Homo sapiens: one gene and its partner. The protein of the gene in region 1 purifies or fractionates together with the protein of each later gene. This does not show direct contact. Each region holds a gene or a part of one and is shown on either strand. Other genes may lie near its edges.

Region 1 (4,544 bases):
CAAGGCCCAGGGTGCCATGACAAGAAGGGGCAGTTTGCTTTCTTTTTCATTTTTTGAGACAGGGTTTCTGTCGACCAGGCAGGAGTGCAGTGGCACGATCTCAGCTCACTGCAACCTCCACCTCCCGGGTTCAAGCAATTCTGCCTCAGCTTCCTGAGTAGCTTGGATTATAGGCATACACCACCACACCCGGCTAATTTTTGTATTTTTAGTAGAAACAGGGTTTCACCATGTTGGCCAGGTTGGTCTCGAACTCCCGGCCTCAAGAGATCCACCCGCCTTGGCCTCCCAAAGTGCTAGGATTACACACCTGAACCATCACACCTGACCCTTGTTGGTTTTCTGAGCCAGAATGTGGTGAAAGCCTCGAGTCCCTACCCACTGCCTTTCCCTCACCCCATTGTCCCCAGGAGCTGGGCTGCCTTACCGCCACTCTGGGTGATGTAGCGAACCCAGGGCAGGGCCTGGTAACCACTTTTCTCAATGATCTTCATGTATCGGACCTGGAAGGGAATGAAAAGAGGTGGTCCAGGATTGCAGGAGGGAGGAGGCCAGGGCCAGGGAGAAAGAGACGGCTTAGGCCAAGCGGCTATGTGGCACAGGCTGGGATCGATGAGGGGATATCACATGGTCTTAGGGGGATGAGGTGGCACAGGCAACGGAATGGTGAATGGCTTTGGAGGTGGAGAAGGGACAGAAGTGAACAAGCCGGTGGGGAACAAGGTGGCACAGGCCGGGGGAGAGGGAGCACAGGCTGTGGGCAGATAAAGGTAACATTGCTCTGGGAAAGACCAGGCAGCCTTCAGAGGAGTGTTGACACAGGCCAGGGGACTGAGGTGACTCGAGCCAAGGGACAGGAGAGAGGGGAACCCACCGAAGTCAAGGGGAGGATCCTCCCTGCCTGCTTCTCTCACCTGGATCCCAGAGACGGTGAAGTAGGGGATCTCAAACTTGACCCCGATGGGGGGCCGGCCCTCCACCTCTTCCTTTTCCACACTGGGGAGGCCAAAGTGGGCTCGCATCAAGTACTCCTTGCCCCCCTGAGGGAACATGGGGGCATCAGGTACACGAGGGTCCGCCTACCCTCCCGAGACCTTCCTTTCAGCAACCCCTGGAGTCAGATCTGCTCACAGCCCATTTCACAGACAGGAAAATAAAGGCTCCTTAGCCTGGGCAACATATTGAGATACCATGTCTACAAAAAGTTTAAAAATTAGCTGGGTGCGGTGGAACATGCCTGCAGTTTCAGCTACTTGGGAGGCTGAGGCAGGAAGATCCCTTGAGTCTGGGAGTTTGAGGCTGCAGTGAGCCATGATCTCACCACTGCACCCCAACCTGGGTGACAGAGACTCACCAGGGAAGATTCTGACTGCAAAACCCAATCAGGGTTTTTTTCTTTTTTTAACTACCATGTCCTGTTTTACAGGCACTGATGATCCACCTCTCCCAAGATCATGGGGACAAACCAAAACCTCTAGTAGCCAAGGGATGTGGGTCACCTCATCCTGCCCATTTCACAGACAGGCAAACTGAGCCTCCTTAAGTGGAAATGGGTTTCCCAAACCCACCCAGCTCAGCAAAGCAATAGTGAGGAAGGTGAACCCAGGGCTGGTTTCCTCAAGACATTGGCAGGGGGATATTTAAATCCACACACTTCCCGTCATGGAAGTTTACACGTCTGTGAAATAGACTGGCCTGGTTTCAAGCTTGATCACTTGCATACATACGTACCTCTCTGATTTACTTGTATTTCTTTTTTCTTTTTTTTTCTTTTTTTTTCTTTTTTTTTTTTTTTGAGATGGAGTCTTACTCTGTCGCCCAGGCTGGAGTGTAGTGGTGCGGTCTTGGCTCACTGCAAGCTCCGCCTCCCAGGTTCACGCCATTCTCCTGCCTCAGCCTCCCGGTAGCTGGGACTACAGGCGCCCGCCACCACGCCCAGCTAATTTTTTTTTTTTTTGTATTTTTAGTAGAGACGGGGTTTCACAGTGTTAGCCAGGATGGTCTCGATCTCCTGACCTCGTAATCTGCCCGCCTCAGCCTCCCAAAGTGCTGGGAATTACAGGCGTGAGCCACTGCGCCTGGCCTTGTATTTCTTTTTTCTAAGTTTTTTTTTTTTTCTTGAGACAGAGTTTCACTCTGTCACCCAGGCTGGAGTGCGGTGGCGTGATCTCAACTCACTGCAACCTCCGCCTCCCGGGTTCAAGTGATTCTCCTGCCTCAGCCTCCTGAGTAGCTGGTACTACAGGCGCACACCCCCATGCCCGGCTAATTTTTTTTTTTTTTTTTTTTTTGAAATGGAGTCTCGCTCTGTCACCCAGGCTGGAGTGCAGTGGCGTGATCTCTGCTCACTGCAAGCTCCACCTCCCGAGTTCAGGCCATTCTCCTGCCTCAGCCTCCCAAATAGCTGGGACTACAGGCGCCTGCAACCACGCCCGGCTAATTTTTTGTATTTTTAGTAGAGATGGGGTTTCACCATGTTAGCCAGGATGGTCTCGATCTCCTGACCTCGTGATCCGCCCACCTCGGCCTCCCAAAGTGCTGGGATTACAGGCGTGAGCCACCGTGCCCTGCCCTAATTTTTGTATTTTTAGTAGAGACGGGTTTTCACCATGTTGGCCAGGCTGGTCTTGAACTTCTGACCTCAGGTGATCTGCCCGCTTCAGCCTCCCAAAGTGCTGGGATTACAGGTATGAGCCACCATGTCTGGCCTTTTAATCTTTTTTTTTTTTTTTTGAGACGGAGTCTCGTTCTGTTGCCCAGGCTGGAGTGTGCAGTGGCACAATCTCAGCTCACTGCAACCTCTGCCTCCCGGGTTCAAGCAATTCTCCTGCCTCAGTGTCCCGAGTGGCTGGGATTACAGGCATGCGCCACCACACCCAGCTAATTTTTGTACTTTTACTAGAGACGGATGTTAGCCGTCTCTATGTTAGCCAGGCTGGGATTTCAGGCGTGAGCCACTGCGCCCAGCTCCTCTTAATATTTTTATAGAGGCAGGGTCTCACTGTGTTCCCCAGGCTGGTCTCCAGCTCCTGGGTTCAAGCGATCTGCCCGTGTCAGCCTCTCAAAGTACTGGCATTCCAGTCATGAGCCATCACACCTGACTGGGTCTCTGATTTGTTCTCTGCCTTGTTCTCATGGCTCCTGGGCAGCCCCCACACTACTCCAGTCCCCTCCACCCCCAGATCCCCCGCCAGTCCCTGGTACTTACCGGGAAAGACTTAATACTCCAAATCACGACGTTTCTCTCCGGCACATACTTGGCGCTGCCCACACTGGTCTTGAATCTGGGGGAGTCGGCATCGCTGGGTACAGGCACAGATATCTCCACACCGTTGGCCACTGACTGTTTCTTAAACTGCCCCTTGGCCTGTCAGGGGAGCGAGCATGGGGCACGAAGAATTCGCTTGCTCATCCTTCAAATATTTACCAAGCCCTTTTTTTTTTTTTTTTTTTTTTTTTTTTGAGACGGAGTCTCACTCTGTCGCCCAGGCTGGAGTGCAGTGGCGCGATCTCGGCTGGCTGTAAGCTCCGCCTCCCAGGTTCACGCCATTCTCCTACCTCAGCCTCCTGAGCAGCTGGGACTACAGGCACCCGCCAGCACGCCCAGCTAATTTTTTTTGTATTCTTAGTAGAGACGGGGTTTCAGCATGTTAGCCAGGATGTTCTCGATCTCCTGACCTCGTGATCCGCCCACCCCGGCCTCTCAAAGTGCTGGGATTACAGGCGTGAGCCACCATGCTTGGCCTTTTTTTTTTTTTTTTTTTTTAGACGGAGTCTCTCTCTGTCACCCAGGCTGGAGTGCAGTGGCACAATCTCCGCTCACGGCAACCTCCGCCTCCTGGGTTCAAGCAATTCTCCTGCCTCAGCCTCCCAAGTAGGTGGGATTACAGGCATGTGCCACCACGCCCTGCTAATTTTGTATTTTTAGTAGAGACAGCGTTTCTCCATGTTGGTCAGGCTGGTCTGGAACGCCTGACCTCAGGTGATCCTACTGCCTCCGCCTCCCAACATGCTGGGATTACAGGTATGAACCACTGCACCCAGCCTGAAGGGGTCATTTTGAATCAGGCAAAGGTGTATGGTGCTGTCCACATGGAAGGCACCAAGAACAGGGCTTCTCGAGCCTCATGGGTGTGGGCCTGAGTTCTAACAGTTGTTGGCTGTGTATCTGCAGGCAAATGCCTTAACTTCTGTGTGCCTCAGTTTCCTCATCTGTAAAATGGACAGGATAAGGGTCCCCACCTTAGGATTGTGGAGGCCTGGGCTGAGAGGGCATATGAAAGGCTTGTTGAAAAAAGCCGGGGGTGGTGGGCCACACCTGTAATCCCAGCACTTGGGGAGATGGAGGCAGGCGTGGCGGCAGGAGCCTGTAATCCCAGCTGCTCGGGAGGCTGAGGTAGGAGAATGGCATGAACCCAGGAGGCAGAGGTTGCGGTGAGCTGAGATCACACCACTGCACTCCAGCCCGAGTGACAGAGGGAGACTCTTTCTCAAAAAACAAACGAACAAACAAACAAAAAAACCCTTCAGTCCATCACAGGAGA
Region 2 (5,473 bases), on another chromosome or scaffold:
TGGTTCTATCAACCAGAGCAGGTGGGGGTAAAAAGAGTGAAAAATGACCACTGGGGCTGAGAGGCAATATTAGAGCTTCAAGTGGCAGAAACAGAAGAAGAAAAGAAAAACATACAGAGTTCAAGTGTTGTTGCCACAATTTTCCCTTTTAAAGCCAGTCCTTTAATGTGCAAATAAGAACATGGATACATGTCTCATTTCTTCTTGTTTACCAGCCAGAGGGTAAGAGAAACAGTAATTCAGTCCACTAGGACAGAGACTTGGGCCTAAAGTGGTTTTAAAATCTCACAATGGGGCCAGGCAAAGTGGCTCACACCTGTTTTGTTTTTTTTTTGTTTTTTTTGTTTTGAGACGGAGTCTGGCTCTGTCACCCAGGCTGGAATGCAGTGGCGCAATCTTGGCTCACTGCAAGCTCCACCTCCCGGGTTCACGCCATTCTCCTGCCTCAGCCTCCCGAGTAGCTGGGACTACAGGTGCCTGCCACCACGCCCGGCCAATTTTTTCTACTTTTTAGTAGAGATAGGGTTTCACTGTGTTAGCCAGGATGGTCTGGCTAACCACCCTGCAGGTGACCTCATGATCCACCCGCCTTGGCCTCCCAAAGTGCTGGGATTACAGGCATGAGCCACCACACTCAGCAATGCCTGTTAATCCCAACACTTTGAGAGGCCAAGGCAGGCAGATTGCTTGAGTCCAGAAGTTCAAGACCAGCCTGGGCAACACGGTGAAACCCTGTCTCTACAAAAAAAAAGTAGAATAAACTAGCCAGGGTGGTGCCTGCCTATAGTCCCAGCTACTCAGGAGGCTGAGGTGGGAAGATCGCTTGAAACCCAGGAGATCAAGGCTGCAGTGAATTGTGATCCCACCATGGCACTCCAGCTTGGGTGACAGAGTGAGACTCTATTAAAAAAAAAAAAACAAAAAACCTCACAATGGCTCAATAAGTTCCATCTCAAAAAATGGCAGGTTTTCCAATATAATTCGCGTTTGCTTCTTTAAAAAGTTGGGTATTTTTTAAATTTTTTTGAGACAGGGTCTCACTCCTGAGTAGCTGGGACTAGACACCATCATACCTGTCTAATATTTGTGTCTTTTGTAGAGACAGAGTTTCACCATGTTGCCCAGGCTGGTCTCAAACTCCTGGGCTCAAGCGATGCTCCCATCTCAGCCTCCCAAAGCGCTGGGATTATAGGCATGAGCCACCACGCCTGGCCTAAAAAGTTTTCAAGGAATCAACCTCAACTCCCCATTAAACACTACTCTCCTATAACCAAAACCACTATTTTCCCCCACTTAACCAAGAGTGACAAGGAGTACCTGAATAGGCTCTTCCTCTTCACACTGGCCAGATACAAGAAGATCACCATATTCACCTATACACCATGCAGCCACTTGTACCAAAGGTTGCTGTGAAAAGAAAAGTCAACGTTTCTCAAGAACTTCAATTTTTCCAAAGTTATTTAATGCAAATCATAGGTCATCTCATAATAAAGATCAAAACTGTGCATATCTAGAGTGTTAGAAATAAAGACATACCAAAGGGGAGAGAGGAGGGGGGAAAAAAAAGAAGAAAAACATACCAGAAAAATTGAGGGTAAAATTACCCCCTAAAATAGTTGAATGAAGTACTTACTTGAGAATAATCACCAAGAATTGCTTTGTACAGGCGCTGGACAGTATAGGCATGCATCTCCACACTATTAGTTATTAACTGGATTAAATTGGGGACTGCATCATCACGAACATAACTTCCTGCCTAAAAGGAAATGCAGACAATTACCCCTAGAAACACACAGAAATGATGATAACAAGTGTTAGCTATTATTATTACTGTGTGTTTTTTCCTTTCTTTTTTTGAGACAGAGTCTCGCTCTGTCACCCAGGCTGGAGTGCGATAGCGCGATCTTGGCTCACTGCAACCTCCACCTCCCAGGTTCAAGCGATTCTCATGCCTCAGCCTCCCAAGTAGCTGGGACTACAGGTACATGCCACCACACCTGGCTAATTTTTTCTATTTTTAGTAGAGATGGGGTTTCACCATGTTGGTCAGGGTGGTCTCGAACTCCTGACCTCAGATGATCCACCTGCCTCGGCCTCTCAAAGTGCTGGGATTACAGGCGTGTGCCACTGCGCCCAGCCATTACTATTGTTTTTAAAAGAAGAATACCAGAAAACACCCTCAAAGATAAATTTGGTTCCAATTCTCAGGTTCATAACAGCTCAAACTTCAAAGTCTTATTTAAATATGTTACATTTTTAAATTTTATTTTATTTTTAAAAATTTTCTCTTTGTCCAAAGGCCGGGTGTGGTGGCTCACGCCTGTAATCCCAGCACTTTGGGAGGCCAAGGCGGGTGGATCACAAGGTCAGGAGATCGAGACCATCCTGGCTAACACGATGAAACCCCGTCTCTACTAAAAATACAAAAAATTAGCCGGGCATGTGGTGGGTGCTTGTAGTCCCAGCTACTCAGGAGGCTGAGACAGCAGAATGGCGTGAACCCAGGAGGCCGAGCTTGCAGTGAGCCGAGTTTGCGCCACTGCACTCCAGCCTGAGCAACAGACTGAGACTCCGTCTCAAAAAAAAAAAAAAAAAAATTTCTCTTTGTCCAAATTAAAAAAGGAAGGCTGGACACAGTGGCTCACACCTGTAATCGCAGCACTTTGGATGGCTGAAGCAAGATGACTGCTTGAGGCCAGGAGTTTGACACAAGCCTGGGCCACACAGCAAGACTCCATCACTACCAACAATAATAATAATAATAATAATAATGTAAAGGTTTAAAACTTTATCACCCAACCTTGGTCAATCTCCCATTCCTAAATAGAACAATAGATTTAATTTGTAAGACTGAGACCAGTCCTAACCATGTGTATTTTGGAAAGGAAAAAAAAGAAAAAAAAAAAAAAACAGCCAGGTGATCAGGGTTTTATCAGGTCACTCCTGTTAAGAAACACAAAGACAGAGGAAGAATTCTGGGAAAATGATCAGAAGGAAAGGTGAGAAGCTAAAAAGCAGGTAATTTGCAGTATAGTTTATTTACATCCTTCCGTAAAGCAGAGTGCATTAAATACAAGAAAGCATCAGGGTGATCTAATGGGTTTGTATAATAAGACTACTTCATTCAACAGCAGCAGAATACACATTTTTCTTAAACTTACACTGAACCAAGAAAGACCATATTCTGGGTCATAAAAAATATCTTAACAAATTTCAAATAACATAAATCATAGACAGTATGCTCTTAGACCACACAGAATTAAACTAGAAATCTGCAACACAAAGACAGGTGCAAAAAAATCCCAAAATATTTGGAGATTAAAAGAACATACTTCTAAATAACACATGGGTCAAAAACAACATTATAAGAGAAAACTATAAGCCAATCTCTCTCATGAATACACATATAAAAATACTCAACAAGATATTAGCAAATCAAACCCAACAAAGTTATAAAAAGAATAATATACCCTGACCACGTATTCCAGGTATGTAAGGCTGGTTAGGCATTCAAATATCAATGTAACCCAGCATGTAACAGGCTAAAGAAAACAAATCACATGATCATAAGAGAACACAAGTCAGTTAGAAAAATAAAATCAGGGGCACAAAAAAAAAGCTTTTGAATTCTCATAAACACTTTCCTTCAGGAGTGTTAATTTCTCCCTTCTTTTGAGCCTCATGAAAACTAGGAAAACATGTCCTGTTCATCATTATGTTAATTACATTTTGTTAGATTATAATTTTTCCCCTTGCTAATCAAATTTATTAACTTTTAACCTTTTACCAAGTTAATTCATTGTAAGTAAACTAAAAAACGAGTATGCCCCAGAGAGAATTCCACAGCAACAAATACATATACATATAAGTCATAATTTCATAAGTCAACAAATACATATAAGTCATAATTTCAATGATATAATTTTCTCCCTACAGATGTTTCATAATTTACTTAATCCCCATTTGGGGACTACTAGTTGTTTCCGGTTTTCTCCTACTATAAACAATATTAGGATGAATACTTTTACATACACATTTTTGTGTACTTGTCCTATTATTTTTTCAGGCTAAAGTCCTAAAAATTGAATTAATGAATCAAAGGGTACAATTTAAGGCTTTTCCTACATGCTACCAAACTGCATAGTAAAAAGATGGCATCATCCTATACTCCCATAAAGTGAAGAGTACTGCCTGTTTCTCTATTTTCTAACACTGGGAATTAGATTAAAAAATACGAAATGTGAAAAATGATACCTCAATTTTACTTTATTTCTTTAATAAGAAAATTTTTTCAAATGTTAATTAGCCATTTCTTTCTTCATGAATTGCTGGTTCAAATACCAATTTTTCCATTAGAGTGGTATTTCCTATCAATTATAAATTATTCATAGATTGAATATATTAATATGCTGTCATAAGTTAATGTTTTCCCCAGTTGTTAATTTGCCTTTTAAATCGTAGACTGTTCCCCTTTTTGTTATTCAATTTTTAAATTTTAATATGGTTAAATTTGTGGCTTTTCCTTTACAGTAGCTACTTCTAGTGACTTAATTAATGGAAATGGTTTTCTTTACATGTCACTGCACTTTCATTTTTACTCTTAAATACCTAATCCTTGCCTACTAATTGAATAATAAACACAGAAACCCTGAATTTCTGCAAGAATGCCAAAGAAAGGATCCCATCCAAAACAGGATTTCAAATCCTGAGTAACTTTAGCCATTCAAAACCCTGCAATGGCTTCCTAACATATTCAAAATAAAATGCAAGCTCCCATGAGGCCTACATAGTCTGGCTCCGCTTATGTCTCTGACATCCATCCTACCATTCTCTGCCTCTCTCACTTTATGGCTTCACTTGCCTTCCTGTTGCTCTCCAAGCAAGCTATGCTTGTTCCTACCTCAGGTCTTTGCACTTAGGGTTCCCTCCGTATGGTACACTATTCCTCACGATCTCTGCATGGCTTGCACCTCATGTCTCTTAGGTCTCTACTCAAATGTTATCTCCTCTGAGAGACCTCCCTGACTAACTCTAATCTAAAACACTTGGCCAGTTGCCCTATATCCCACCTTATCCTGCCATCATTATATTCCTCCATGCTGCTTTAGGTTTTTCTTCATGGCATTTATTCCTAACTGACATTAATGTTACCTATTTACTTGTGAATTTCTTACCTCCCTGACTAGAACATAAACTTCATGATAACATCAGTATATCCCAGCACTTCGTATATGCTGTCTGAAAGAAGCTACTTACCGTTGTCAAAACACGCATAATTGTGTCTATATGCCATCGTTTGGAAGGTGCATACCTGAAAAAAACAATGGAAAGGGACACTTGGAACCAGTAAAATATACCGTTTTCAGTGACTAGAAAATCCTGCCCAAGCAGGGTGACTCACACCTGTCATCCCAACATCTTGGGAGGCCGAGGTGGGAGATCACCTGAGCTCAGGAGTTCGAGACCAGCCTGG

The links. The genes of interacting proteins can lie anywhere in the genome.
Region 2: the proteins of AP1M2 (region 1) and AP1G1 purify together in Homo sapiens (affinity purification with mass spectrometry; 6 studies listed by BioGRID and IntAct, with this or other methods). This does not show direct contact.

Annotation. Positions count from the first base shown.
Region 1 is NC_000019.10:10,573,990-10,578,533, forward strand, and holds part of AP1M2 (AP-1 complex subunit mu-2), read right to left. Parts: intron 3,368-4,544; coding exon 3,209-3,367; intron 1,041-3,208; coding exon 915-1,040; intron 504-914; coding exon 428-503; intron 1-427. UniProt on the Homo sapiens protein: Subunit of clathrin-associated adaptor protein complex 1 that plays a role in protein sorting in the trans-Golgi network (TGN) and endosomes.
Region 2 is NC_000016.10:71,748,577-71,754,049, forward strand, and holds part of AP1G1 (AP-1 complex subunit gamma-1), read right to left. Parts: intron 5,312-5,473; coding exon 5,257-5,311; intron 1,757-5,256; coding exon 1,634-1,756; intron 1,408-1,633; coding exon 1,318-1,407; intron 1-1,317. UniProt on the Homo sapiens protein: Subunit of clathrin-associated adaptor protein complex 1 that plays a role in protein sorting in the late-Golgi/trans-Golgi network (TGN) and/or endosomes.